Linked DNA regions of Homo sapiens. The protein of the gene in region 3 purifies or fractionates together with the protein of the main gene of each other region. This does not show direct contact. Each region holds a gene or a part of one and is shown on either strand. Other genes may lie near its edges. The genes, in order: UTP15, PWP2, TECTB, AGPAT5, IDH2, DDX27 and WDR3.

The links.
Region 1: the proteins of TECTB (region 3) and UTP15 purify together in Homo sapiens (affinity purification with mass spectrometry; one large-scale study listed by BioGRID and IntAct). This does not show direct contact.
Region 2: the proteins of TECTB (region 3) and PWP2 purify together in Homo sapiens (affinity purification with mass spectrometry; one large-scale study listed by BioGRID and IntAct). This does not show direct contact.
Region 4: the proteins of TECTB (region 3) and AGPAT5 purify together in Homo sapiens (affinity purification with mass spectrometry; one large-scale study listed by BioGRID and IntAct). This does not show direct contact.
Region 5: the proteins of TECTB (region 3) and IDH2 purify together in Homo sapiens (affinity purification with mass spectrometry; one large-scale study listed by BioGRID and IntAct). This does not show direct contact.
Region 6: the proteins of TECTB (region 3) and DDX27 purify together in Homo sapiens (affinity purification with mass spectrometry; one large-scale study listed by BioGRID and IntAct). This does not show direct contact.
Region 7: the proteins of TECTB (region 3) and WDR3 purify together in Homo sapiens (affinity purification with mass spectrometry; one large-scale study listed by BioGRID and IntAct). This does not show direct contact.

The regions. Positions count from the first base shown.
Region 1 is NC_000005.10:73,571,623-73,575,941, forward strand, and holds part of UTP15 (U3 small nucleolar RNA-associated protein 15 homolog), read left to right. Parts: intron 1-866; coding exon 867-1,002; intron 1,003-4,319. UniProt on the Homo sapiens protein: Ribosome biogenesis factor. Involved in nucleolar processing of pre-18S ribosomal RNA. Required for optimal pre-ribosomal RNA transcription by RNA polymerase I.
Region 2 is NC_000021.9:44,124,029-44,128,347, reverse strand, and holds part of PWP2 (periodic tryptophan protein 2 homolog), read right to left. Parts: intron 3,769-4,319; coding exon 3,621-3,768; intron 2,338-3,620; coding exon 2,229-2,337; intron 1,449-2,228; coding exon 1,383-1,448; intron 417-1,382; coding exon 198-416; intron 102-197; coding exon 1-101. UniProt on the Homo sapiens protein: Part of the small subunit (SSU) processome, first precursor of the small eukaryotic ribosomal subunit.
Region 3 is NC_000010.11:112,302,356-112,305,744, forward strand, and holds the end of TECTB (beta-tectorin precursor), read left to right. Parts: intron 1-907; coding exon 908-957; 3' UTR 958-2,683; downstream 2,684-3,389. UniProt on the Homo sapiens protein: One of the major non-collagenous components of the tectorial membrane. The tectorial membrane is an extracellular matrix of the inner ear that covers the neuroepithelium of the cochlea and contacts the stereocilia bundles of specialized sensory hair cells.
Region 4 is NC_000008.11:6,756,680-6,760,998, reverse strand, and holds part of AGPAT5 (1-acyl-sn-glycerol-3-phosphate acyltransferase epsilon), read right to left. Parts: intron 3,837-4,319; coding exon 3,611-3,836; 3' UTR 1-3,610. UniProt on the Homo sapiens protein: Converts 1-acyl-sn-glycerol-3-phosphate (lysophosphatidic acid or LPA) into 1,2-diacyl-sn-glycerol-3-phosphate (phosphatidic acid or PA) by incorporating an acyl moiety at the sn-2 position of the glycerol backbone.
Region 5 is NC_000015.10:90,091,869-90,096,187, forward strand, and holds part of IDH2 (isocitrate dehydrogenase [NADP], mitochondrial isoform 1 precursor), read right to left. Parts: intron 1-4,319. UniProt on the Homo sapiens protein: Plays a role in intermediary metabolism and energy production. It may tightly associate or interact with the pyruvate dehydrogenase complex.
Region 6 is NC_000020.11:49,225,295-49,229,613, reverse strand, and holds part of DDX27 (probable ATP-dependent RNA helicase DDX27), read right to left. Parts: intron 3,185-4,319; coding exon 3,079-3,184; intron 900-3,078; coding exon 726-899; intron 1-725. UniProt on the Homo sapiens protein: Probable ATP-dependent RNA helicase. Component of the nucleolar ribosomal RNA (rRNA) processing machinery that regulates 3' end formation of ribosomal 47S rRNA.
Region 7 is NC_000001.11:117,946,085-117,950,403, reverse strand, and holds part of WDR3 (WD repeat-containing protein 3), read right to left. Parts: intron 4,319-4,319; coding exon 4,225-4,318; intron 2,000-4,224; coding exon 1,898-1,999; intron 654-1,897; coding exon 568-653; intron 410-567; coding exon 274-409; intron 1-273. UniProt on the Homo sapiens protein: Part of the small subunit (SSU) processome, first precursor of the small eukaryotic ribosomal subunit.

The DNA.
Region 1 (4,319 bases), on a different chromosome or scaffold from region 3:
CCAGTACCTATTTGATTTAAAAATAAGTTGAGGCGGGATGTGGTTGCTCACGCCTGTAATCCTAGCACTTTGGGAGGCTGAGGCAGGCGGATAGCTTGAGTCCAGGAGTTTGAGACCAGCCTGGGCAACATAGCAAGACTCTAAGACTCCATCTTTAATTAAAAAAAGAAAAAAGTTGATAATGTCAGATGTGTCTACTTTTCTTGCTGTTATTCTGACAAATGGAAAAAATATCATGTTGAACAGGGAGAATAGAAAGCTGTGTGCTGATCTCCACTGTGTGTCACTAGCTAATTGTGACCTCGGGCAATCCCTTAAGGTCTCTAGACCTTGAAAATGAGAGGGTTGGACTAGATCAGTGATTTCAACTGTGATCCCTCTTGTGAGGTGCCACATAGGAGTGGAGAGGTGGGAACTGTGAGTTGGGTTCCAACTCCTGTTCCCCAGTCAAGATTTCAGTCTCCCCTTCCATCCCTTTTTCTGTCTTTCCATATTAGACTTTTTTGCTTGATATTTTGCTGCAGATCTACATTATTCACTTCCACTGCTATATAGAATTTCTTTTAAAAAATGATTTTATTATAATTTTCTTAAAATGGACTCTTTCAGTTATACATTTATTTTGCTGGAATTTATGTACACTTCACAAATATTATTTAATGGTCATAACAGTTCTGTGAGGTAGGAACTGTTATTACCAATGACCCAGGAAGTGGTGCATCCAGGATTTTACCAGGCAGCCTGGCCTGGACTCCCTCACTCAGCCTCCATGCTTTGTGGAGTGTCCAGAGAAGAATGCTTTTCAGATCTTTAATATGTTGAATCTGTGGGCAGAATATCCAACTAACGATGATTTCTTTTTATAGGAGGTCGTTATGTTAAAGTCTGGGACATGTTAAAAGGAGGACAATTGCTAGTATCTTTGAAAAATCATCACAAAACCGTGACATGTTTATGTCTAAGCAGCTCTGGACAGAGGTTACTCTCTGGCTCACTGGATAGGTTGGCATTTTAATTTTTTTGTATATTATTATTAGTGTACACCTGTTTACTGCTTGAGGAAATGAGTTATTTCAGCAATATTTGTGATAAGTATACAGATAATGATTTCCAGGAGAAAAAAACCTGTTGAGTTGAAAATAGTTTTGACCTTTTGTTTACATATAGCTACTTCTTTTCTTTTCTTTTTTTTTGAGACAGAGTCTCACTCTGTCACCTAGGCTGGAGTGCAGTGGTGCAATCTCGGCTCGCTGCAACCTCCGCCTCCCAGGTTCAAGTGGTTCTCCTGCCTCAGCCTCCTGAGTAGCTGGGATAACAGGCACGCGCCACAATGCCCGGCTAAGTTTTTTATTTTTAGTAGAGACGGAGTTTCACCATGTTGGTCAGGCAGGTCTTGAACTCCTGACCTCGTGATCCGCCCACCTCAGCCTCCCAAAGTGCTGGGATTACAGGCGTGAGCCACCACACCCGGCCACCCATAGCTACTTATTTTCTCCTTTGACACAATTTGTTTTAACTTGTATACTTAAACAACATTATTGAACCATTTGAATGATAATCTTTCAAATAATGTTATTCTATAAACCATCTTTTAAAATCATTATTGTACATTCATATATTTTGAAGTTTTTTTTTTTTTTTTTGAGACAGAGTCTTGTTCTGTTGCCCAGGCTGGTGTGCAGTGGCACAATCTGGGCTTACTGCAACCTCTGTCTCCCAGGTTCAAGCGATTCTCGTGACCCAGCCTCCCAAGTAGCTGGGATTACAGGTGTGCAGCACCATGCCTGGCTAATTTTTGTATTTTTAGTAGAGACGGGGTTTCGCCATATTGCCCAGACTGGTCTCGAACTTCTGGCCTCGTGTGGTCTGCCCACCACGCCCTCCCAAAGTGCTGGGATTACAGGTGTGAGCCACTGTGCCTGGCCTGAAAAGTTTTTTAAAAATTAGATAAATTAATTTTTTTTTTTTTTTTGAGATGACATCTCGCTCTGTTGCCCAGGCTGGAGTGCAGTGGTGGGATCTCAGCTCACTGCAACCTCTGCTTCCCGGGTTCAAGCGATTCTGCCTCAGCTTCCTGAGTGGCTGGGATTATAGGCGCTTGCCACCTTGCCCGGCTAATTTTTGTATTTTTAGTAGAGACAGAGTTTCGCCGTGATGGCCAGGCTGGTCTGGAACTTCTGACTTCAGGTGATCCACTCACCTTGGCCTCCCAAAGTGCTGGGATTACAGGCATGAGCCACCACGCCTGACCTAAAAGTTAGATAGCACATTTTATTTAGCCTAATATCTAATGTAAAAATAAAATATATATTACATATAAAATATAATTTCAGTATGTAATCTATGTCAAAATTATTAAGATACTAGAAATAAATTAAGCATCTAAACATGTGCACTATGATACAATAATCATATTTTAGGTTGGTACAGTGGCTTACACCTGTAATCCCAGTGCTTTGGGAGGCTGAGGTGGGAGGATCACTTGAGGCCAGGAGTTTGAGACCAGCCTAGGGAATATAGTGAGACCCCATCTCTACAAAAAATTAAAAAAATTAGCTGGCCACAGTGGTACACACCTTTAATCATAGCTACTAGGGAGGCTGAGGCAGGAGAAGCACTTAAGCCGGAGTTTGAGGTTGCAGTGAGCTGTGATAGTACCACTGTACTCTATCCTGGGTTACAGTGATACCCTGTCTCTAAAAAAAAAAAGATAATATTTTATAAAAATTACTGTCTCAGTTTTTAAATTAAAATTAGATAAAATAAAAAATTTAGTTTCTCATTTTCACTAGCCACATTTCAAGTGGTCAGTAGCCATGTGCAGCTAGAAGTATGGCACAGTTCTAGAATTTACATGATTTATTATTAATTTTTTTTTTTTTTGAGACAGGGTTTTGCTCTGTCGCCCAGGCTGGAGGGCAGTGGCATGATCTTGGCTGACTGCAACCTCCACCTCCTGGCTTCGAGCGATCCCCTCGCCTCAGCTTCCTCAGTAGCTGGGACCACCGGCACGCGCCACTGTACCTGACTCATTTTTGTATTTTTGTTGAGATGGGGTTTTGCCATGTTGCCGAGGCTGGTCTCAAACTCCTGAGTTCAACAGATCCTCCCACCTCAGCCTCCCAAAGTGCTGGATTACTGGCGTGAGCCACCGTGCCCGGCTTACATGATCTATTTTTTATTATTTTATTTCCATATTTTCATTTTTTTCTGCTCTTATGAAAAACTTTAGTTTTCAGCATGTTAATTAAAAAGTATACAGTCATCTCTTGGTAACTGAGGAGAATTGGTTGTGGATGCCCAAGTCCCTTATTTAAAATGGCATATTTGCATATAACCTACACACATCCACTGTATACTTTAAATCATGGCTTGCTTATTTGTAATACCTAATACAATGCAAATGCTATGTAAATAGTTGTTACACTGTATTTTAAAATTCTGTATTGTTTATATATTTATGGATATTTTCAATCCATGGTTGGTTGAATCTGCAGATGTGGAACCTGCCATAAGAAGGATTGACTGTACATATTTTAAAAGCTAGAAAATATTTTTAATACAAAGGAATTTTTTATGTAAATACATGGCAAGTTTACACATGTTACTGAAATCATGTTACTCGGCAATTTGGGACTTGATTCTTAGGTATGTTCCTAAAAGCTAAGTGTAAATTGGCTCTATTTGTGGTGGTTTCAACCAAGAGTGATTTTTGTTCCTCAAGGAACGTTTGACAATATCTTGAGAAAGTATTGTTTTTTATCACAACTCATGGTACTTACCATATAGGGGATAGAGGCCAGGAAGGCTGCTAAACATCCTACAATGCACAGAACAACCCCCACAAAAAAGAATTCTGTGCCCCAAAATGACAGTAATTCTGAGGTTGAGAATCCCTGATCTTTGGCTTCATGTGTACTTTCTTTCTTTCTTTTTTTTTTTTTAATTTATTTTTTTAGAGACAGGGTTTCTTCAAGTTGCCCAGGCTGGTCTTGAACTCCTGGGCTCAAACAATCTGCTGTCCTTGGCCTCCCAGAGTGCTGGGATTACAGGTGTGAGCCATCACACTTGGCTTTGTGATGTGCTTTCATTGATAATTTTTTCTTTTTTTTTTTTTAAGATGGAGTTTCACTCTTGTTGCCCAGGCTGGAGTGCAATGGCGCGGTCTCGGCTCACCGCACCTTCTGCCTCCTGGGTTCATGTGATTCTCCTGCTTCAGCTCCCAAGTAGCCGAGATTACAGGCATGTGCCACCATGCCCGGCTGATTTTGTATTTTTAGTAGAGACAGGGTTTCTCCATGTTGGTCAGGCTGCTCTTT
Region 2 (4,319 bases), on a different chromosome or scaffold from region 3:
GAGGTAGAATTCCAGGTGGCGAGACACTTCAAAGGAGGAAGCTAAAAACTCCAGCACTTTCTCCACATACAGTTCAGGAAGGGAGGAGGTGACCACTTCAACTGCAAAAGGAGAAAAAATCATGCTTATTCTGCCACCAACTCAAACCAGGGGAAGAGAGGATGACCCCGGCGCCCGACACCGAAGCCCCAACTCACTCTCGCCCCTGGGCACCGCCTCCAGGGCCTCCTGCACCAGTTTGCTCTCGTTGAGCCGGAGGGCCATGAGGATGGCCCTGGTGAAGTCCTGCTGGCGCAGTGCCTCGCGCACCCTCCCGGGGGTGACGCTGGTGTCCAGCTCAAACGGGTCAAAGAGCACGCGGGTGTCCAGGGAGTAGATGAGGAGTCCCTCCGTGGTGGTGGCCGCCCAGCAGCGCCCTGGGAAATTAAGCAGTGCTTTCCTAAAAATTTAAGCTCATTCCTCCCAACATTTTTTTTCTTTTTTTTTTTTTTTAAAGAAACAGTATTAAGTACATTCCCCTGGGACAAAGTGCAAAAATCAGGAGGAACCGGGACGTCTGCCTCTAGCCCCCACCCCACTACTCCCCTGGGAAGGAATGAATGGATCATCCCAGAAGTTACTCTCCCAGGGATGCACATATAAGCAAATATGTACACGCATGCGTCCTCCTCTCTTGACGCCGGGAGCCAGCCAAGTCTTCTGTCTAGCTCAGGCGTCTTCAGCTCCGCAGGCCCTGTGGTCTCTGCTGCACCTACTCAGTGCTGCACGGATCACTAGAGACAGCCAGAAGGATCCGCCAACAAAAAAACGCCCAGTAAAATGTCCCAGTAAAACATCAGTGACCAAAGCAGGTGGCCAGCCAGATTTGGCCCTTGGGCCCGAGGGCACAGACCCCTGGCTCACATGGGCCTCTCTGCCCCTGGCTCTGACACTCAGTCTAGGCTGGAGCACGCTTGCCAATAGCCCTGCTCCTGGCTCCTCTGTGTGGGGACCATGTGCACCGCCAGGCTCCACAGGCCTGTGGCACAGACCCTCCTCCCCACTGCGAGAGGATGGGGGCAGTGCGCAGGAGACGGGCTCTCCGTGATGGCAGAGCCGCCCCCAGGCAGCACGTCCAGGGCACTCGGGGAGCTGCTAGAGCAAGGGCATACCAGGCCTGCCATGTTTCAAAGCTCAGTGCATCTGAGGTTGGCACCGTGACAGCCATCCATCCTCAGGGACAACAGCCATCTTGTGGCCTGCAGGGTTTGCAGGGCCATGTTCTTACCCAGGGGCACAGGGCACAGCCCAGAGCCTGCAGACAGCTCCATGGTGGCCAGCCTTGCTATGGCACAGATGCCCCAGTGCCCACCGGCACCAAAAGCCCATGGCTCAGTGCTCACCAGTGGGAGAGAAGCGGAGTGAGGTCACCCTGATCTCAGGTTTGAAGTGCCGAGAACTCATGTCACCTGGGGAAAAAAGAACCGTTAATGATCACTGGACAGCATATCCAGGCTGCTCTCCCCACGAAGCAAGTCATCCTGCGGTCTCCCGGCTGGCTGGGGGGTGCTGTGGGAGCCCCATCAAGAGCAGCAGCCTCTACTCATTGGGTCCTGCACAAAGCGGAGGCAGAAGCAGCCCTTCCCTCGCTGCAGCTGCGGCAGGTGGGCCCGTGCTGGGGCCGCGGAGGCTGTTCCGGGTGAGCTGCCAAACAGATGGCCCAGCCCATGGGGCAGATGCTCAAAAAAGCCAGCCCGGCCAGCAGACTGTGTGTCCAACCCAGAAAAGGGCCCCAGCCCAGCCCAGGAGTGGGTCTGCTGTGCTCAACACGGTACCCTGGGCCTGCATATGGAAGCACTCAGGGTTTCTGGCTGGCGAGTGTCCCATCAGGATGGTCTACCTGGGACCCAGATCTTCTAGAGCACCTGGCTCTCTGTGCGGCGCACATGGCCTCACGCCAGAATGCTCCGTGTGCTGTGCAGCAGACGGGGCACCCAGTCCCAAGAGCAAATGGACGGGTCCCGCCAGGGCAGGGAGGCCACGTGTAGCAACACATGGGCAGCTTCTCCTGCCCAGGGGCTGACGGCACCAGCACCAACCCACTGGGCCTTTGACACCCCCAGTGTCCAGCAAATGTCACCATGTAGTAACTGTTATTTCCACACACTGCAGCCCCAACCAGGGGCATGAATGCGTGGTCACCCAGGACCGGTGAGTGGTGGGCAGATGCGGGAGGAACCTCTGCTCACCTTTCCTGACGCCTGGCAGTGGTATCGCGACTCCATCCTCCTGCCCAGCATCCTGATCAATTAGTGCCAGGTTGCCAAACTCTGTCATTTTTCTTCGGTTCAAAAATTCCTAGAACAGCAAAAGCAGTGGACGCCTTGCTTCTGATGGCCTGGCCGCCTGGCCCTCGTCTCCTACCCTTGCTCTTTGACCCCAACACCAGACAAGCCTCAGCCCTGTCTAGAACAAGGACGGGGAGAGAGCCCTGCAGTGCCCCAGGGACTCTTCCTGCAGAGCTAGCTGCAGACAGGGTGGGTGTGGAAGCTGTGGAGCAGGGCAGGTGCGGAGGCTGCGGAGGGGGATGGACTGAGGTCTACATGCTGGCATTGCTGCCACCATCACAAAGGCTGGGGCTCACAGCGAGGATGGCCGTCTACTCCCTTGTGAAAATGCCAAGGACACTTTCCCCCAGAAACATTTAGGGGACAGTGGGCTTCTGCCCCGATGGGGCGTGGACAGGTGAACCCAGCAGCCACACCCCTGCTTAGAGGCTACCAGGGCTTCCTCACTCTCATTCTGAGGTCCTGCAGGAGCCAGCATGTGAGTGGGACCTGAGCCGAGGGCTGTGCTGAGGGGGAAGGGCAGGCACCAGTGGGGACAGTGAAGGCAGAGCCTTGTACACAGGACCCCGGGCAGGAAGCCATCGGGCAGGGCCTACCAGCACCCTCTTCGTTCACTCCTTCCCTGACAGATGTCCGTGTCTCCTGAGCCAGCGTGTGCTGGGCACTGCCCCTCACAGCTCCAGCCTCCTAGCAACCAGCCTCGGCAGGGTCATCCACAGCAGTGGTTCCCAACCCCTGGTACTGGCCCATGGTCTGTTAGGAAACAGGCTGCACGGCAGGAGGTGAGTGGTGGGCAGGTGAATGAGTGAAGCTTCATCTGAATTTACAGCCGCTCCCCATTGCTCGCATCACCACCTGAGCTCCGCCTCCTGACAGATCAGTGGCAGCATTAGATTCTCACAGGAGTGCGAACCCTATTGTGAACGACACGTGAGGGATCTAGGTTGCACCCTCCTTCTGAGAATCTAATGCCTGGTGATCTTGATCTGAGGTGAAACAGTTTCATCCCAAAATCAATCCCCCCAACCCTGTCTGTGGAAAAATTGCCTTCCACGAAACCGGTCCCAAATGCCAAAAGGGTTGGGGACCGTGGCTCCACACACAGCTGAGGCAGGTGCTGGCTTCACGGCCGGACTCTGCTGGGGCAGGTGAGGGGCCCGTGCACTTAGATACAGGACAAGCACCACAACTGTGCCCAAGGCCCCATGGAGCCAGGAGTGCAGAACGCAGGAGCCCGACGCATTCCACCTGCATTGGAAGCAACATCCATCCGGCCCCGCGCTGGCGGCTCACCTCCATGGCGTCCAAAGACAGGTTGCAAGAGATCTCGAACCTCTTCATGAGAATCTGCTCACGGACGTGGTAGATGCACACGAACTTGGACATGCCTCCCGCCAGGATGCTGTGGCCGTCTGCAGAGTAGCACAGGGCGGTGAAGGCCCTGGGTGGAGAGGAGACATGGACTTACGGTGGCCACCACGGAAACCTCAGCGTATGGCTCCTAAAAACCAACTTTAGGCCTGCATGGTGGCTCCCGCCTGTTATCTCAGCACTTTGGGAGGCTGAGTTGGGAAGATTGCTTGAGTCCAGGAGTTCAAGACAAGCTTGGACAATATACCAAGACCCTGTTTCTACAAAAAATAAAATTAACAGGGTGCGGTGGCACATGCCTGTAGTCCCAGCTACTCAGGAGGCTGATGTGGGAGGATCACTTGAGCCCAGGGGTTGGAGGCTGCAGTGAGCCATGATTGCACTCCTGTACTCTAGCCTGGGTGACAAGAGCGAGACCGTGTCAAAAATCAAAAATAAAAATAAAAATAAAAATAAATAAAATAAAAACTAACCTTAGGAAATAGAGGAGATCCTATACCAGCCCTCCAGGAAGCAAACACCAGCCTCAGCAACTTTCGCCAAGGCTCGCTGCCTCAACTCACGCGAGACTTTTAAAACCCACAATGTCCAATGGTGCCATCACCTGGTTCCGCTCTGAGC
Region 3 (3,389 bases):
AGCAGAACTGGACCTCACTTCCCCAAGTCTTAGTAAAGCCATCCCCAGATGGCTTCCCTTGGATTCCAACATTTACAGAACAAGATTTTCAGTGATCTGTTCATTCAACAAATATTTGAATTCTTGTTATGGCTCTGTCTTTTATTAACTGAGTGACCTTGGGCAATGACCTCACCCCTCCTCCATACCCTAGTTTCCTCTGTGAAATTGGGCTAATAATTGCCCCTATCTACATGGCTGTGGTATAGATATTTAATTACAGCTAAGGGCACTGAACAATGCCCAGCAAACAGCAAACACCCAGTCAGGGTCAGCCATGATTATGATGACTGTACTGGGAACTGGTCTTGTGGCTACTGCCGTGAACAAGACAGACAAGGCCCCTTCCCTTGCCAATATGTGTAGAGTATTTGGGGTTCAATGGGGGACGTGATTTAGAGAGCAGCCAGGGAAGCCCCTTAGAGGAAGAAACATTTCAGCTAAGACCCAAGATCTCACCTGAATGATAAGAAGGAAGCAACTACATGAGGAGATGGGGTAAGACAGTTCACTTATTAATAATCTCACAGACAGATTTTGCTCTCATCATTACAGGAGAATCATGTAAATCAACTTTTAAAATTCCAATCCTAGATTCTCATCGTTTTTAAGTTCTACACTGAAAGCCCTAGAGTACCATGCACCATCACTGATTTCTATTTGTCAGAGGTCCACAACCTAGGTTTATCTGTCAGGTTCTTTGTACTGATAAATGTGAGCTACAGAATCCCCAAGGGATGAACAAAATCGACTTTGTCTAAAATGTGTGGAATTTTATGAAGACCCCTGAGTTAACTCTTCTGTTGAGTTGGCTTTACCCTTGTAGAACTGTCTCTGAGTGCCATCTCCCTCCCCTTCTGGTCCACAGATGTTCTCCACCACCTCATCATGATGTTGGGGATTTGTGCCGTGTTATAGGAGTTAGCCAGGCAGCTGCCGCTCCTCCACCCACAATAGTCCTCAGCGAATGACAAACACATTTATTGTGCTGCCAAAAAGAACAAACAGAAGACCACATTGTTGGGGGGCAGAGAATAGCACTTTGCCAAATATGCACTCCAATAATTTCTGTGAATTTGGTGATGCCTTTTTCTTTCTAAGAAAAACTTAGGCTACTTCCCGTGGCCCTTAGATCTCACAGTCCTTCTACAGCTGGGGGAGGAGCCTCCTTTCTCCATACTCAAGTCAGGGCTGCAGTAAATTCCTTTGAAAGCTATTTTAACTTTAAAAGGTTAGCAGACCCAACCAAGTACTGCTGAGCATTTTGAAGAGAATGTAGGGTGCAACTACAAAGTCAACACTAAATGCACAACGCACATTAATAGCTGACTTTGCCAAAAAGGAGCTTTGTCATTGAGGCAGTGTCATTCTACTTAAGGACCAGAGCTGAGCCCCCACGCAGGGAGTTCCAATCTTTCAACTGATGACATGGGAGATGATGTGGGATTCAGAGTGGAATACAATAGTTTTGCTCAAACCTAATGATATAAAGGAAATAGATTCTTGAAAGCCCCTAGTACTGACCTAATTTGTTTTTATTATACCATTTGTTAAATATATAAACATGATATAGGTAGAAACTCCTTGTTTTTATAGCAGATGTATACTTCTAAAGTCAAAAGAAAATTACAAATTAAATAGGAATATTTACAAAAAGAATAATCACAAGAAGAATACAACTCACATTAATTTAACCTAATAACACGGCATTGCCCCAGTGAAACTGCTGCTGGAAACATGACTATAAAGTGACTCCAATGACACAAGTGCTGTGAGTTTGGTGACCCAATCCTACAGATAAATGCCTTGTGACACTCAATGCTATTTTTTCTCTATTTGCTCTACTAAGAAGTTTTCATTTATAAGAAATGGTCTGATCTCATTTAGCTTTTACTTAAACATCGAAGCTTACATCTGTTTTTGTCTCATTCACTTACAATCATTAGAATGAAGCTAACACAAAATCAGAAACACAAATGCAAATGCAGCCAATGAAAGCATGCAGTAGCACATCTTGGTAACTGGCCACCCCAGTGATCCAGAATATGCCCATATAAATGATTTACATTGTCAACAAAATACAAACTGAATGAACCAATTCTGGTAGAGAATTGGCTGGATTGTGATAGGAAAAGGCAGAGTTCTAAGTCCTTAGTTATGTAAAGACTTAATTAGTAGGCTTATAATTTGAAAACAACACATGGGTTTGTCTCTCTGTATTTAAGGTATTTGAGAAGTTTTGCAATTTGCAGTTTGATGATTCTTTTACAACTTGTGTTAGTGAACTCAGAGATTAAACTAGTTATGAAATCTCCGGATACATGAAGTGTATGTTTGTTTAGTAATAGGCTAAAGTAAAATGACTCAATTTGGTCTAGACTTGGTCTCTAAGCTGGAGTTCCAACGAGTTTAGGATCTCTTCTTTCTGTAAATTCAGAGTTTTTATAGTCAGGAAAAACAGAAGACATATTTTATTGGTTCTAGTAGAAAACTCTTAAATAGCATACTCATAGCCATGTTCAAATCCTTTGCTGTCAGAATAAACCAATGTTGTATTAGTTTTGCTGTATTTCATCATTGTGTTTTATGATCTTGTATCTCTACCTGGCGCTATGGAATAAATAAAATGCCTTAAAATAAATAACCTATGACTACAGTTTACAGTGTTAATATATCATGTTGACAGCTAATTCCCCAATTCTCCCAGGGGTTTCTACAACTAGAGCTTCGTAGACTCGCATATATGCCACAGACTTTTTTTTTTTTTTTTTTTTTTTGAGATGGAGTCTCGCTCTGTCACCACCCAGGCTGGAGTGCAGTGGCGTGATCTCAGCTCACTGCAAGCTCTGCCTCCCAGGTTCACACCATTCTCCTGTCTCAGCCTCCCAAGTAGCTGGGACTACAGGTGCCCGCCACCACACCCAGCTAATTTTTTGTATTTTTAGTAGAGATGGGGTTTCACCATGTTAGCCAGGATGGTCTCAATCTCCTGATCTCGTGATCTACCTGCCTCAGCCTCCCAAAGTGCTGGAATTACAGGCATGAGCCACTGCACCCGGCTTGCCACAGACTTCTAATTATTCTATCCTACCTTTACATTTAAAAAACTCCCAGTATTGGGTTTCTGATGCAAGGAGGTAAAGCCAATCTGTATGATTAACATTTTGGGGAAAAGGTCTTTTGGGTCATCCCTGCCTATAGAGCCCGAATGTCTCTCACCAGTGACTGGATGTGTTTTGACTTGACATTAACTAACAACCTCATGATGTTTGATTACCCTTCTTGTCTCATAACTTCTTCTTTGAGAAAATAAGACAAGGTACTCTCAAAACAATCTCTTGTAAATTCTC
Region 4 (4,319 bases), on a different chromosome or scaffold from region 3:
AAAGATGTCAAATATTGATGATAGTATCGAAGAGTTGTAGCTACTCTAAACTGAGTAAATTAGCGATTGTACAGACGAGCACTTCATAATAGTTGAAGGTTTTAAATTCAGTTAATTACATGAATATTTGACAAGTATGTGAATGTTGTAAATATTTTGACCAAAGTACTAATTTTGATTCTAATGATTGCATGTTACATAGTCTCTATATAATGTCAATTATACTAAGTGATAACGTAATTTCAAGTTCTTTAATCAAAAAGTGTGAGTTACTCGTAATGAAAACTGGCCCAAAAGGAGGGAGAAAAAATCTTGTTTATAAAGCAAGCCATGCAAAACTACAACGACATTGCATTGTAGCTTTCCACCAGATACGGAATATCTGCCAAGAAAATATTTCACTCAATCTTCAATCTAAACACTACTAAAAACAAATTAAGGTTAAAATTATTTTACTATGCGCTTGCAATTATACACACAAAATACTGCTTTGGTAGACATTTCTCTCTCTTTTCACATTTTTTGTGGTACATATCTGGGAGTTACTGTGTGTCTATAATAAGCAAATTTTATATTTCTATATTTCCTTTTCATTTTCTAAGAGTTGGGGTCTCGTGCTGTTACCTAGGCTGTAGTGCAGTGGTATGTCCATGGCTCACTGCAATCTCAACCTCCTGGGCTGAAGCGATCCTCCCACCTCACCCTCCCGAGTAGCTGGGACAAACTACTCAGTGTACGCCACCATGCCTGGCTAATTTTTTTTAATTTTTTTGTAGACAGGTTCTCGATATGTTGCCCAGGCTGGTCTTGAACTTGGCCTTATTTCCTTCTATCTATGATCAGTCTAGTTAGATCACTTGATTGACACAGACCTATTCAAAGAATATAATTATGAACAAAGGAAAAAATAAAGCTTATGTAACCCATATTAAGCAAAATTGTTGCCACTCTAAATTTTAAAAATCACATGGAAATGAAACATATGAAAAACTATCAGTATGTATGGTGTAAGAGTTAGCCAGATCGGCACTTTTATTCACCAACTTAGTTAATTTAAGGCATTTGACATGTTTCACTGAGATCACTTAATGATTACAGAATTGCCAAGCAAATTAACATCGGCCATGCATCTTATAAATTGCAGATGAATTTATATAACCAAACTAATATACTGCTTAACAGTTTTGATTATTTTAGTGTATTTTTTTAAAACTTTGCTCAAAGCTTAGGGAAAAATATTGTGAAGAATGCAGGGCCAGTCATTAAGCCTATTTTATGTACTGGGAGACTGTTGGTGAATTTTAGGGTCAAAAAATGTTAAACAGCACAGCCATTAGAGACAGTGAAAGATTTTATTTTTTTTTTTACTTTCATCCAAACACACCCTTTTCTGAAAAACATAAAAGCATGCACATCGACGGCATTCTTATAAAGAAAAATTAATAACTAAGCTGTAAATCAGTAATAATACAAACAAAAGTTTAAATGATATGTGAAAAGACTTACAGGTAGGTATACGGCTCTTAATTTTAGAAAATAATTCAAGTCAGTATCAATACAGGTTAAGGAGAAGCTTCTAATTTTCCAAACATTTTGATACAAAATTTTTTTCAACGACTGTATTTTATAGACCTTTTGTGAGAAGATTAGTATAGTTCTATGAAACCTAACATTCAAGTGATCTTATGCAGGTCAGGCTACCTTGTTAAAATGAGTTAGAATCCACATAATTCCAACAGTATTGCCTCTCAAAGTTCAAATTTAGAACATACCCATTATATTCAAAATATATTAAATCCCTGTACTTAACAAAGACATGGAATTGATCTAAATTTTACTTTACAGGTAAGAGAAAATTACAATTCAGCATGAGGAAATTTTCATAAGTTTTACCCATGCCCCGATTATTAGGCCAACTATATCCTGAGTGTCCATGGATGTGTGCATACATTCTAATGTACACAAACCAATTCACACCACACGACTCTTCAAAGATGATGCTTGAAAGAGTTTATTCTCTGGCATGGGAGAAGCAGTGTAACACAGTCACTTAATTTTCCCTTAATCATTATTTCTTTCATTTTGCTTATCATGATCCAACTGGTATGTTTAATGTGGGCCACTGATATATTTCTGCAGCAAAAATCCAGTAGCAGTAAGCAGAAATGTCAACTTAAAGGACTATGAGGAAATCGAAGTTTAAATTATAACACAAAAATAGAACAGTTCACACTGAAAGGTCTTCTCCCATGGGATATATTGTTCCATGGCTAAAAATCGTGATCTGGTTCCTGGAACACAGCTCTTGCTCTAAGGCGATACATATTAATGTGTAGCTCCACTAAACCTAATGGGAAATAAACAAATTCGTTCAGTCATGACAAATTAAGTCTGTATTTCACTGGCTTGAGAAGGTGAACTTCTTGACACAGACAAATGCAAAATGCCTCTGCAGTAGCTGGTGAAGCCCACTCACAAGGGCTTAAAGAGTTCAACTCTGAAAGTGGGCAGCACAGGCTGGCTCTGCATTTCTTCCTAGCAAGTCTGCGTGCAAGCCGCTGAGCAGCACCACTGACGGGATCCAAGGGAAGGACCAGAGCCCAGTGGGAATCCACCACACTACAGAAACGCGACTTCTGAATGAATATTCTGTGAAATCAAAGAGAAGCAGGCAAAAGGCACACGCTAGTAAATCTAGGCAGAATGTCTGCAGGCTCTCATCACCTTAAAAATCTTGTGAACTTGGGGTCCAACCAAGGTTCACACCGACTCTTTTGATATTAAAAAAACAAAACAAAACAGAAAACCTTAACGTTTTCAAGCACTTATGGCACAGACAAAGGGAAGTACTAATAGTGTAGCTTAAATCTTCAAAAAGCTGGGAAATTTAAAGTTCTGCTATAATGAATCAGAGTCACAATTTTAAACTTCGTTCTCATATTTTATACCATTTTCTGTGTGTACAGGGTGTGCAAATTAAGCAATTTCAATAAATATTAGAAATTTATTTTGCAAATATAAAATGAGTAAAATCAGCTAATAACGCAATACAATAAAATCATGTGCTAAACAGAGCTTTTTCCCCATGAACACTTTTTACCCTTTCCTTTGAACATCCTGACACTTCCTAAATACAATTTATTTCACTGACTTGTAGAAATAAGCAAAAGATGAAATATTAACTAGCTGCAAGATACTAAATACTTTAGTAATAAGAGCTTGGAGCTGTCAAGTTGTAATAAATTGAAAATAACAGAAAAAGTGAAATACGCTGCAAATTAATGCTCAAAAATGCAGCCATCTGACTTGCAAAATACACAATCCTCCCAGCCTTCTCAAGTTGTCATTAGTTCATAGGAAATGGACAGAGCAGGAGAAACTCCATTTAGCTTTTACCCTTCCAGCAGCCCCGATGCTAAAGTTGTACAACCAGGTATGTTTGCCCAAGACCATTGCATATCAGCTTTCGTCACAAATTCTATTATCCAATCTTCAATCAACAAGGCTTTATTTACACTCCTTAATAAATTCAGGAAACAATTTGATGTCATGTGCAGCCGCCAAAAATAGACAATGTAGCACATCCCACTGTCTGGAGACAGCTACTTGTCTATGCTTTAATAGTAACCCACAGGCAGCCAAGTAGGGTTCCATATATCCAGGTGTTCACATACAGCTTCCTTCCAGCATCGGTCATAAGCATGCCTGCAGTCAAACCACTTAAGATCAACATTGATGGTAAAGTCTTCTTGATACTTAATTTGGAATTAACACTTTTCCCAGGAAATCTTTTTCTTCTTTCTGGATCTGGTGACTCATAAAATTCTATAAGCATCCTATGGCCAGAATGGAAAAAGTTTAGATTTTAGTCACTTCAGTATTTCAATTCAAAAAATATCAATCAGGTAGCTATTACACGCTGGAAAAGTTATGCAGGTCCCTGGAAAATAAGGATGAATACGGAAACATCCAGAAACTTGGTTTAATAGAAGTTTCTAGTCTTCTAAAATATCTTTAATATGCTCTATGATTAGTATACATGAATTGTATATGTAATATTTCAACAGGTGGTTTTAAGGCATTTTATGAGGATGCTTTTTGTCTTTTAAACTTTTGATAAAGTTTTACAGTGACCTGACTCACAAATGGCTAATAACCCGCTGCAGCTTCTCCTCCTTTTTACATGGAGCTCCTATTCCGCCAGAAGTCAAAGATAGGACCAGCGGTTCTTAGACAGCGGTCCCTCTGTATCGACAGGGGGCTGGTCCCAGGATACCCGGCAGAGACCAAGATCAAAGGATGCTCAAGTCCCTGATATA
Region 5 (4,319 bases), on a different chromosome or scaffold from region 3:
GCAGACCAGGCCACAGCCTTTAGTGCAGGTCCACGGACTGTTGGGAACTGGGCCACACAGCAGGAGGAGAGCTGCAGGTGAGTGAGCACTACTACCACCTGAGCTCATGCCTGGGAACTGCGCACACGAGGGATCTAGGTTGCATACTCCTTATGAGAATCTAATGCCTGATGATCTGTCACTGTCTTCCAGCACCTCCAGATGGGACTGTCTAGTTGCAGGAAAGCAAGCTCAGGACCCCCCGATTGTACATTATGGTGAGCTATATAATTTTTTCATTATATATTACAATGTAATAATAATAGAAATAAAGTGCACAATAAATGTAATGCACTTGACTCATCCCAAAACCATCCCCGCTGCCCACCACCCTGCCACCCGTGGAAAAATTGTCTTCCATGAAACTGGCCCCTGGTGCCAAAAACTTTGGGAACTGCTGGTTTAGAGCACCTGGATCCATCCATCCTTACTTACTTCCTTTCCTTTCTTTCCTTCCTTTCCTTTCTTTCCTTCCTTCCTTCCTTTCGTTCCTTCCTCCCTTTCTCTCTCTCTTTCTTGGCAGGGTCCTGTTCCATTGGTCAGGCTGGAATGCACTGATGCCATCATAGCTTACTGCAGCATTGACTTCCTGGCTTCAAGTGATCCTCTGACCTCAGCCTCCCAAGTAGCTGGGACTACAGGCGCATGCCACCACACCCAGCTATTTTTAATTTTTTTTTTTTCTGAGACGAAGTTTCGCTATTGTCCCCCAGGGTGGGAGTGCAGTGGCATGATCTCAGCCCACTGCAACCTCCGCCTCCCGAGTTCAAGTGATTCTCGGGCCTCAGCCTCCCAAGTAGCGGGGATTTCAGGTGTGCACCACAACACCTGGCTAATTTTTTGTATTTTTAGTAGAGACAGGGTTTCACCATGTTGGCCAGGCTGGTCTCAAACTCCTGACCTCAAGTGATCCACCTGCCTTGACCCCCGCAAAGTGCTGGGATTACAGGCGTGAGCCACCGTGCCAGCCTAATTTTAAAATTTTTTTGTAGAGATGGAGTCTTGCCCTGTTGCCCAGGCTGGCTGGACTCCCCACCCCACCCCCACTTTAATCTGGCTAGGTAGAACTACCCAAAAACATGCCCAGCCCACCAGTGGCCAAGAGGGTGGGGGCCAGTCTGGCCTGTCAGACCCTCTCCCCCTGGAATATGAAGGCAGAGGAGATCAACACAAAGAACACTGGCTAGCTGCGGCTGCCTCATCCAGCACCAAATCAGTAAGAGGTTGTCCAGGGGCTCCTGCCATCCAGTTCCTAAGGAGGGCCTGGGTCCTCTTTTATGTATTTACTTATTGTTTAGAGTCAGGGTCTCTTTATCTCTCTCTGTTGCCCAAGCCAGGCTCAGACTCCGGGGCTCAAGCAATCCTTGCACCTCAGCCTCCTTAGTAGCTGGGGCTACAGGCCCATGCCAAGATATTACTTTTGTCCAAGACTTAGTTCTTTATAGTTTTCCCTGCAATTCTATGAGCTACGCTGTGTAGCTCATAATAAAATCCTCTCCAAGTTAACCAGTCACTAACTTTGTCTGTTGCGTGCAACCCAAGAGCCCTCAACTAACTTGTGGTGATAAAGGAAATAGTATAGATAGGTATTGAGTGCCTACTATGTGCCTTACAGTGTACCAATGCTGTACAATGTGATTCCATTTAATCCCAAAAACAACCCCAAGGAGGTATCATTACCTCCATTTTATTTAATTAATTAATTTATTTATTTATTTATTTATTTTTTGAGACAGAGTCTTTGGTCTGTCACCCAGGCTGGAATGCAATGGCGTGATCTCGGCTCACTGCAACCTCTGCCTCCCGGGTTCAAGCGATTCTGCTGTCTCAGCTTCCTGAGTAGCTGGGATTACAGGCACACGCCACCAGGCCCGGCTAATTTTTGTATTTTTAGTAGAGACGGGGTTTTGCCATGTTGGCCAGGCTGGTCTCGAACTCCTAGCCTCAGGTGATCCACCCACTTTGGCCTCCCAAAGTGCTGGGATTACAGGCGTGAGCCACCACGCCTGGCCATTATCTCCATTTTAAGTGTGGGAAACTGAGGCTCAGAGAGGTTAACAGCTTACTGCCCAAGGTTACAGAGCTTGAAAACAGCAGAGTCACGAGGACTCTGACCCTATTCAACAGGAAGGACAGGCTTACAGCACCTGCGAATGGAACTCAGAACCCTTGATCCCAGCCGACGCAGGTGGGTCAGTCCTACCAGAGAAGCATCAAAGGACTCAATGAGGGGCTGATCAGAGGTCCAGGGAGACCAGTGGAGGGTAGGGGGCAGGGGACGCTACTGAAGGAGAGTCTGACTCGCAGGAATACCCAACAGTCTGGGAAGTGAATTTCAAAGAAAACTCAGGAACTGGCCACCTAACAATGAATCAGTACAGCTGCCTTGGACAAGGCTTGTTGAACCTCAGCCTGCAGCAGATAGGGGCACCGGGGCACCAGCCTGCTCCTCTGCCCACAGCCTGGGAAGAAGCAGCAAATGCAGAGCAGGGAACAAGATCTAATAAAACTTCAGTCACAGGGAAATCTCACCAGCTCAGCTGAGAGCTGTGCCCTTTCCTCAAAGCAGCACTCCTCAGCCTCACTTACAGCCCAATTACTCTTGTGTTACACACAGTCCTTAGAGAGGTGGTGATGTGTCTTCAGCTCCACTCTAGATTAGACACAGCAAATCAGGTGAAGGGAAGAGAATGATTATTTGAAAACACTGGGTTGGGGCTGGGTGTAATGGCTCATGCCTGTAATCCTAGCACTTTGGGAGGCTGAGGCAGGTGGATCACTCAAGGTAAGGAGTTCAAGACCAGCCTGGCCAACATGGTGAAACCCCATCTCTACTAAAAATAGAAAAATTAGGCATGGTGGCACGTGCCTATAATCCCAGCTACCGAGGAGGCTGAGGCAGGAGAATCGCTTGAACCCGGGAGGTGGAGGTTGCAGTAAGCCAAGATCACGGCACTGCACTCCAGCCTGGGCAACAGAACGAGACTCCATCTCAAAAAAACAAACAAACAAACAAAAAAAACTGGGTGGGAAGAACTGACAAGGGACAGAATACCTGTGAAAAGCAGGCCTAGAAACCACCTCGGCACATTTAAAACAAAAGTGATTAAAGCCTAACAGACCTCAAACAACTGACTTTCCAAAGATATGCAAAGAGTTTGTTTTTTTTTTTTAATCTAAAAATAATCTTAGAGATCATTTAGGGGGAATAATGAGACTCAGAGAGTGTGGTCTGCATCAGAGGCAAGATAGAGCCCAGGTCCCTGACCCAAATGCAGCCTCTGGAAGACCCGTGGGTCAGATGTAGAGAAGCAGAACACAAACACAGCCTTGGACTATTCCATTCCCTAGAGAACAAAAGGTGGCTGGCTGCTGGCTCTACTGCCTTTCCCAAGACGCGATGGGGATTTTGAACCCAATCTACAATATTCCTTCACTTTTTTCTGAAGCTTGAGTGGAAAGAGCTGCAGAACCTGCGGAAAGTCTGTTGAGCTGTTGCAGAGCTAGTTTAGTTCTGGGGAGCATCTCCTATGAGTTAATTTGAGGACAGCTAATCAAATTTGTTAAAAAAAAAAAAAAATGAACTATCATAATCAGGAGCCCTAAGGAGAGACTCACTTGGGGCCAGTTCTTCAGGTTTCAGCCTCAGCCTGGGCTCCACGGTTGGGCTTCAGGCAGGCATGGCTAGGAGAGTTCAAGGTCAAGATCAAAGACCTGATGTGTCAAACCCTCAGAGACCACAGGACCTGATTATTTACTCACCGGCAGGTGCTAACTAAGCACTTATCCAGTACCCCACTGGGATACTGAAATGCCTAAAACACAACAGTGCCTGCCCGGAGGCAGTGAATGTGGAAGGGGAAACCTACAGGTAACAGAGAGAGAGCAAGCAGGGCTGTCACCAAAGTCAGGAGTGCCCAGGCCTCCCTGGAAGCAAACATCCCAGGGGAACTGAGAACAGCAACATGAGCCAAGGCCAGCAGAGACTTGTTCTGCTTGTTCCAGGTACTGGTTTTTTAAAAAAATCTTAATTGGTGACCAAGTTTTAAAAATCAGTAAATCTCAACAATAAAACAAATAACTCAACGTTAAAATGGACAGAAGACTGGCTGGGCACCGTGGCTCATGCCTGTAATCCCAGCACTTTGGAAGGCTGAAGAGGGCAGATCACTTGAGGTCAGGAGTTCGAGACCAGCCTGGCCACAATGGTGAAACTCTGTGTCTACTAAAAATAGAAAAAAAATTAGCCTGGTGTGGTGACACACACCTGTAGTCCCAGC
Region 6 (4,319 bases), on a different chromosome or scaffold from region 3:
CTGAGGAAAGTGATGAGGTGTCTGTTACAGGGAGACAAAGATCACTTCTGACTTCCAATAGCACAAGGAGGGCAAAATGCAGGCTAGATAACACTATCATATAACTTCATTGGAAAAACGCTGCCCAAAGTAATATTTGATTCATTATTCTCACAGAGCAGAAATTATACCCCAAATTTGTTCAGTACCACGAAAAAAATGTTCATAGTTTTCAGGTTTCATTTGTGAAGGTTGGTTAAGTCTCAATCAAATCCCACCCACCTAAAGCACTATGAAAACATGTCGGCTGGGTGCGGTGGCTCATGCCTGTAATTCCAGCACTTTGGGAGGCCAAGGCAGGCGGATCACGAGGTCAGGAGATCGAGACTATCCTGGCTAACACGGTGAAAACCTGTCTCTACTAAAAATACAAAAAATTAGCCAGGCGTGGTGGCGGTAGTCCCAGCTACTGGGGAGGCTGAGGCAGGAGAATGGCGTGAACCCGGGAGGCGGAGCTTGCAGTGAGCCAAGATTGCGCCACTGCACTCCAGCCTGGGCGACAGAGCGAGACTCCTCCGTCTCAAAAAAAAAAAAAAAAAAAAAAGTCTTCCAGTTTTTAAGTGGATTCAATCAACACAAAGGCCTCTCCTGGCACCTGTCACCAACACCAACAGATGGCGGGGCACATCCATCCTCCACCCCACCACAGTCTCTCAGGGGCTGGCAGCCCTTGGCCAGAAACTCACCCACAGCCAGGCAGGTGGTGATGTTGCAGAACTGGGCCAGCTGTCTGGTGACAGAGTGCACCTGGATGCCCAGCTCTCGGGTGGGCACTAGCACCAGCACGCGGGTGACTGGAGCCTGGCGGGGTTTATAAATCAGACGCTCCAAAACAGGCAGGGCAAAGGCGGCAGTTTTACCTGGAGGGAGGGACAGCAAGGAAGCAATGAGAAGAAGTTTAGCTCCCTCCAGGGTTAGGTTTTCACCAGAGCACAGAAAAACTACGTCTGGTTGGGGAAAATAAAGGAACTTATTTTTCATAGAATATTTTTTCTGCTTTCAAATCACATGGTCAGGCTCACATATGTAATCCCAGCACTTTGGGACGCCGAGGCAGGCGGATCACCTGAGGTCAGGAGTTCAAGACCAGCCTGGCCAACATAGTGAAGCCCCAATTCTACTAAAAATACAAAAAACTTAGCTGGGCATGGTGGCGGGAGCCTGTAATCCCAGCACTTTGTGAGGCCAAGGCAGGCGAATCACCTGAGGTCAGGAGTTCGAGACCAGCCTGGCCAATATGGTGAAATCCTGTCTCTACTAAATATATAAAAATTAGCCAGGCTTGGTGGTGGGCACCTGTAATCCCAGCTACTCAGGAGGCTGAGGAAGGAGATTCACTTGAAGGCAGAGGTTGCAGTGAGCTGAGAACGCACCACTGCACTCTAGCCTGGGTGACAACAGCAAAACTCTGTCTCAAAAAAAAAAAGAAAAAATACAGCCAGGCACAGTGGCTCATGCCTGTAATCCCAGCACTTTGGGAGGCTGAGGCAGGTGGATCATGAGGTCAGGGGTTCAAGACCAGCCTGGCCAAGATAGTAAAACCCTGTCTCTACTAAAAATACAAAAATTAGCCGGGCATGGTGGCGTGTATCTGTAATCCCAGCTACTCAGGAGGCTGAGGCAGGAGAATCGCTTGAACCCGGGAGGCGGAGGTTGCAGTGAGCCAAGATTGCGCCACTGCACTCCAGCCTGGGCAACAGAGCGAGACTCTGTCTCAAAAAAAAAAAAAAAAAAAATTTCCTCCTCTGATATGGCAGGGCCAGGAGGCCATGGTCACAGAGATCAGGGATACCCCAAGAGGATTAAATGAAAATGACCTTCATCAGACCCTTTGAAACTTGTGGCCCACTACTAGACCGGACATCCTCTCATGCACTGTTTATCTTACAAAATTAATCCTTCAGTATGCCAGGCACGGTGGCTCACACCTGTAAATCCCAGCACTCTTGAGAGGCTGAGGCAGGTGTATCACTTGAGGTCAGGAATTCGAGACCAGCCTGGCCAACATGGTGAAACCCTCTCTCTACTAAAAATACAAAAATCAGCCGGGTGTGGTGGCGGGCACCTGTAAACCCAGCTACTGGGGAGGCTGAGGCAGGAGAATCACCTGAACACAGGAGGCAGAGGTTGCAGTGAGCCGAGATTGCGCCACCGCACTCCAGCCTGGGTGACAGAGTGAGACTCCATCTCAAAACAAAAAATTAATCCTTCAGTAAACTGAGTAAGCTCTGCAGTCTAGGAAACACTGTTGTATCAGTGCCAATTTCCTGGTTTTGATTTTGTCCTACAGTTATGTGGGATGTCACCATTGATGAAGGATTCGAGAGACCCTATGCACTATTTTTGCAACTTGCCACTGATCTACAAATACTTCAAAATAAAGTGGTTAAAAATTTAAAAGTCCTTTACTCTCGGCCGGGCGCGGTGGCTCACGCCTGTAATCCCAGCACTTTGGGAGGCCAAGGCGGGCGGATCACGAGGTCAGGAGATCAAGACCATCCCGGCTAAAACGGTGAAACCCCGTCTCTACTAAAAATACAAAAAATTAGCCGGGCGTAGTGGCGGGCGCCTGTAGTCCCAGCTACTTGGGAGGCTGAGGCAGGAGAATGGCGTGAACCCGGGAGGCGGAGCTTGCAGTGAGCCGAGATCCCGCCACTGCACTCCAGCCTGGGCGACAGAGCGAGACTCCGTCTCAAAAAAAAAAAAAAAAAAAAAAAGTCCTTTACTCTCTCAATTGCACCAGTATATCTTTTTTGTGTTACAAAAATTTTATGGCCAGGCACAGTGGCTCATGCCTGTAATCCCAGAACTTTGGGAGGCCAAGATGGGAAAATCGATCGCTTGAACCTGAACCTAGGAATTCAAGACCAGCCTGGACAACAAAGTGAGACCCCTATCTCTACAAAATAAAAAATAAAAATGAAATAGTTCAAAAAACCAAGAATATTTATTTAGCAAACCAGCCTTTGGTAAGTCAACCTAGAGCCCAGCCCTGGCCGTAACACCCTTCTGCCCACCCTGGGTCCCTATCCTTTTCACCTGTCCCAGTGGCTGCACAGGCACAGATGTCCTTCCCCAATAGACCCACAGGTATGCACGCCTTCTGGATCGGGGTGGGCTGCTTGAAGCCCATGGCTGTAATGGCCTGAGGAAAAAAGAACTGGGTCAGACAGGGTTGAGCGGGGGAAGTCTCAGCACAACACAAACAGGGCAGGTTTCCAGACAAGTGGGGACCACACCAATCCCCACCAATCATTCGTTCCACAAACATTCACTGAACGCCTACTATGTGTGAGGTGGTGCTCTAGACACTGAGGACACAGCAGTAAATAAAAGAAATAAAAACCCTGCCCTCAGGAATCTTACAGTCTGGTAGAAACAGACCAAAAAACAAACACATGTCATATGGAGAGATGCTGCGGAAAACAATGCAGCGGCCAGACGGGCAGCAGGGGGAGTGCTATTCACGGTAGGGCTGCCAGGGAAGGTCTCACTGAGCAAGGGATACTGAGTTGAACCCTGAAGGAAGCTAGAGAGCACCCCAAAAGATTTCTGGAAGAGTTTTCCAGGCAGAGGGAACAGAAAGTGCAAGGGCCCTGAGGAAGAGGAGGCCTAACCTATTTGAGGGCCAGCAAGGAGGCCAGTGTGGCCAGAGCAGAACGAGTGCCAGGAGGTGTCGTCAGAGAGGGCCAGAAGGGGCAGAGCCTTGTAGGTCAATATAAGGACTCAGGCTTCTAAGAAGAGTGAGACTGGGAAGTACTGAAGGACTCAGAGAAGAAGAGGAGGGACACGATGGAACTCATTGCTTAAGAGAGTTCTCGGCCGGGCGCGGTGGCTCACGCCTGTAGTCCCAGCACTTTGGGAGGCTGAGGCGGGCGGATCACGAGGTCAGGAGATCGAGACCATCCTGGCTAACACGGTGAAACCCCATCTCTACTAAAAATACAAAAAATTAGCAGGGCGTGGCAGCGTGTGCCTGTAGTCCCAGCTGCTGGGGAGGCTGAGGCAGGAGAATGGCGTGAACCCGGGAGGTGGAGGTTGCAGTGAGCCGAGATTGTGCCACTGCACTCCAGCCTGGGCGACAGAGTGAGACTCCGTCTCAAAAAAAAAAAAAAAAAAAAGGGAGTTCTCTGGCAACTGTATGGACAAGAGTTGAGGGAGGCAAAGAGAGAAGCAGAAAGTCCAGTTAGGGGTGGCTGCAATAATCCCATGGTTGCCAAAATAAGCCACTACTGGCCAGGCACAGTGGCTCAAATCCCAGCACTCTGGGAGGTTGAGGC
Region 7 (4,319 bases), on a different chromosome or scaffold from region 3:
GCTCTTATAACTACTTAGTATGACAGAATTTTCTGTCCACAAGATTTTTTGAACATATGAAATATAACTTGCTTTAAACAAAATTCATGAACCATAGAATTATTTTAAAATGCTAGCTTCCCTAGCATAGTTACATTGCTTTGATTCACACACACATTTTTAGAAATGTACTATCGCTGGGCACAGTCAAGGCCACTTCTTTATAGCCTCAACCCAAATTCTTAAGGTCAGTCAGTCAGAAAGGGAAAATATCCGCAGGCATAACCACTGTACCTTTAAAGTATCAACGTAGAAAATTTTCACAGTACAGTCCAGCAAAGACACAGCCAATAGCTTTTGATTGGGAGAGTAACTGACACACAGAACATCTTCATCTAGTTGCAAAGTTCGGGTTTGCTTCACAGAAAGTCTAGCACCACAAAAAACATCAAGAAAAAATAAATGAGTATACAAATTCAGACAAATCCTAACTCTTTAGAGCACAACAAATGATATAAGACGTCAAAAGGCCATTCCATAGCTCCCCATTTTCACTCCAAAAAATGGACACAAAAAATGTCTACTCACCTCTTTTGGGTACTATTTTCATCTTTCACTAACTCAAAATCCCAGAATTTGACAGATTTATCTGCACCACCTGTCACAAAGCCACGCTGAAAATCAAATGAAATTTCAATTAAAAACTATTTTAGCATAAAAACTTTGCTATGAAGATACATTTTAAAAGTCTAAGAAAGTATTTTTATTTAACGTCATGGGATAAAAATTAAGAAAAACGTGGTTCTCCCTAGCCCCTTTCACTGATCTTTTGGGTCTGCTGCCACAAACCTTATGTGAAAATTCCTACCATCGACTAACATAGGCAGAAATAATAACTAATGAAAAGTTCTAGTTATACTATTATCTAGCATCAAGAAGAAACAAAAACTCTCAGTAAACCAGTTTGAAAAATATACATAGAATGGATAATCTAGATTTGTTTAAAGTATTCACCTCAGAAGGATATAAATTTAGTCCTGCAATGTCCCTACTTAAAATAGTTTTGAAGCTGTTTTCCGTTATCAAGAAAATTAGTCTCATTACATGGCAGTGTTAGTGTAAAGTACATAGAACACTGGATCTCAAGTGTCTGTCCCTCATAGATTTATAACACAGGAAACAACCTTTCCGTAAATCCCTAGTTTTGTTGAAAAAAAGACCACACAGTTTATGGAAAAGATAGAACACTCTACAAATGCAAGATTTATTACTATTTTAGACTCACAGCTGTTTCGTTTGGACCCCAAGTGGTATTAAACACTCTAAACTTCAGTGATTTTTTCCAAAACTAAGTTCTACTTTCAACGGATGAAAATTGTCTATCATTGAGAATATTTAAATAAATGGGCCAAAATTTCTTAAGGTGTTGTCAAAAAAAAAAATCTCAAGATTTTCTAAGCAACAGCACCATTATTAGAATAAGCATACTTTTGCCAGGAACTGCTCTGAAGGTGAGCACATATTTATTGACTTGTAAGGGCTGACATACTTGCTAAAACTACTTAGCTTATACAGTCATAGATGTTTGTTTGAGGAAAAAAGGGGAGCAGCAAAGTCTATTCAGTTCTCTGCATCATGTTGCCCAAGAGAATATTCCCCCTTAAGAAGTATTACAAAACATTGGCAAAAAAATCATGATGGTAAGCAATTTGATGTCACGCTGCTGATAAGCAAAAGTAGCCAAACAAGATTTCATTTCATAATGACAGGTGGTCATTTATAAGAAGGCATCATATACAAACACTAAAGATTAGACCAAAAAAAAAAAAAAACCTCAGGCTTTCTTTAAAGAAACCCTGAGAGAAATCAGGGTAGCCACAGGGCTGAACTCCAGGGCTTTAAAATCTGGTTTAGTTACCTGATCTGGAGAGAGGGACATGGACCACAAAGCTCCATCATGTGCATCTATTGTCTCCAGCAGATTCCCTGAAGCCAAGTCATAAAGCTGCAGCTTCCCTGTCTGGGAAGACACAAAATGAGCACAGCTCCAATGAACATACGTACAACCTCCATGATTCATGACTGCACAATTTAGAAAAGACTTCATAACCAAGCTGCAAAAATGTGATCCATTGCTTAGGAAATGGATCCCACATTCCATGTTCTGTATTTCCTACCTGATTAAATACTATTAAATCCCCTACTGATGTGCTGGGTTAACCTTGGCAGGGCTACCATAGTGTAGAAGTATGGAATAATACCACCATGCAGTACTGGATGCATTACTTTCATTGGTTACACAACTTCACAAGGAAAATATCATGACCATAGGCAAATCAGAATAAACAAAATAGCAAATGCAAACCTAAAAGCCTTTAAAGTTTAGCCAATCCTTTAAGCGGATGATCCTCTATAGTTATTGGCTTAAGCAACCACCTCTTTTCCATCTGCTTTTGGTTTCCTCCTCTGCAATACATTGACAATAAGAAATGGGATCTACCTACAGCACTAAGGAAGGCAGTGAATTTAAAAAAAAATCATAATGGCATAGAAAGCAATCACTCTAAAATTCCTATTTAGAGGTCTGTATATGCCATAGTCATGGTGTCAGCATGTAACACACACAGAGGCAAAGCCTGTTTTACGATGAGCTTCTGCACAAGGTGGTACAGACAGCATAAGCTAAAAGACTTGAGTACCAGGTCTGCTTTGTGCCCATTGGTAAATTCATCCCCATGAACCTAGTTTTTCATCTGTAAAATGAAATTTATATCACCAATGTTTCAAAGATGTTGTCAGGATTAAATGAGATAATGTACATTAATTGCCTAGCACAGCCAGTAAGCCGACAATTGCATTTTAGCCACATGGGTAGTCTTAAGCAATTAAAAAACTACTTTCCCGACGGCAAATCAGAGATGGACATTTGTTGAAAGAGTGAAAAAGGAAGGAAAGTTTTGAGATGTGAATACTGTTTCCTGGCATTGTTCCTAAAATCTCTCCAGCCTACATTTTTTTGTTGAAGCAAGAAATATCCATTGTGATCCATACATTTTGTAATAAAACTCATGTACATATGGCTTTGTTTTATGGGAATAATAATGACAAATACTTGCAAAGCACTTTTCAAAACACTCCATAGACCTTGTTCCATTTTATTCTCACTACTGGTACAATCACTACTGCTATGTCTGCTACCAGCTCTATTATCGATTAGCTATTCGCTGCAGGCTAGTTTCTCTGCTAAGAGTTTTGTATACTTCATCTCTGTGAAATGGGTCAGTAACGTCATTTTCCACGAGAACACCAAGGCTAACAGGGTTAAGGTCACATAGCTAGTAAGTGCCAGAGGCTGGTACCAGTCCATCTGGTACGAAAGCTGCTGTCAAAAAGCAAGTGTCGTCATCCCATAATATAAAGGAACACACTATGAGCAGTTATGTGACTTGCTCCAAATTACTCATTTTTTTTTTTTTTTTTTTTTGAGATGGAGTCTTGCTCTGTCACCCAGGCTGGAGTGCAGTGGTACTATCTCGGCTCACTGCAAGCTCCACCTCCCGGGTTCACGCCATTCTCCTGCCTCAGCCTCCCGAGTAGCTGGGACTACAGGCGCCCGCCACCACACCCACCTAATTTTTTGTATTTTTAGTAGAGACAGGGTTTCACCGTGTTAGCCAGGATGGTCTCGATCTCCTGACCTTGTGATCCGCCTGCCTCGGCCTCCCAAAGTGCTGGGATTACAGGTGTGAGCCACTGCGCCCGGCCCAAATTACCTATTTCTAAAGGGCAGAAACTAAATCCAAATCCATATCTGCTTATTTCCACATGGTTGTCTCCCAATCTGACTAGCACCTAGGAATAAGGACTTGATCAGTTTGTCTTTACTGAATGCTTCTGTCTGCCAAGCATGATATTAGGTACTTAATATATTTAATTATTACCCTTAATATATTTTATCATTAATTAAAACACAATTACATATGCGCCCATAAAAAGACACATGAAAGGATGATCACCAAAATGTTAATGGTAGTTATCTCAGGGTCATGATTTTAATTTTCTTCTTCATAATTTTTAAAAAATAAAGTAAAACTTCAGTAAACAAAATATGTAATAAACTAACATCCTCCCAGATTACTTAGCTCCAGTCCATTTCCAATATGCTAAAAAGAAGAACCAGATTTCTTAACTTTATGAATTTTGAGTAGAAAAGATCCAGATATCCCAGAAAAAGTCTCCATTTACCTTTGTTCCTATGACTACCTGTCTATCACCAGGTACAAAGAATGAGCAAAGTGCATATTCACAGGTCATTGTGCGAATACACTGCAGTGTAGACC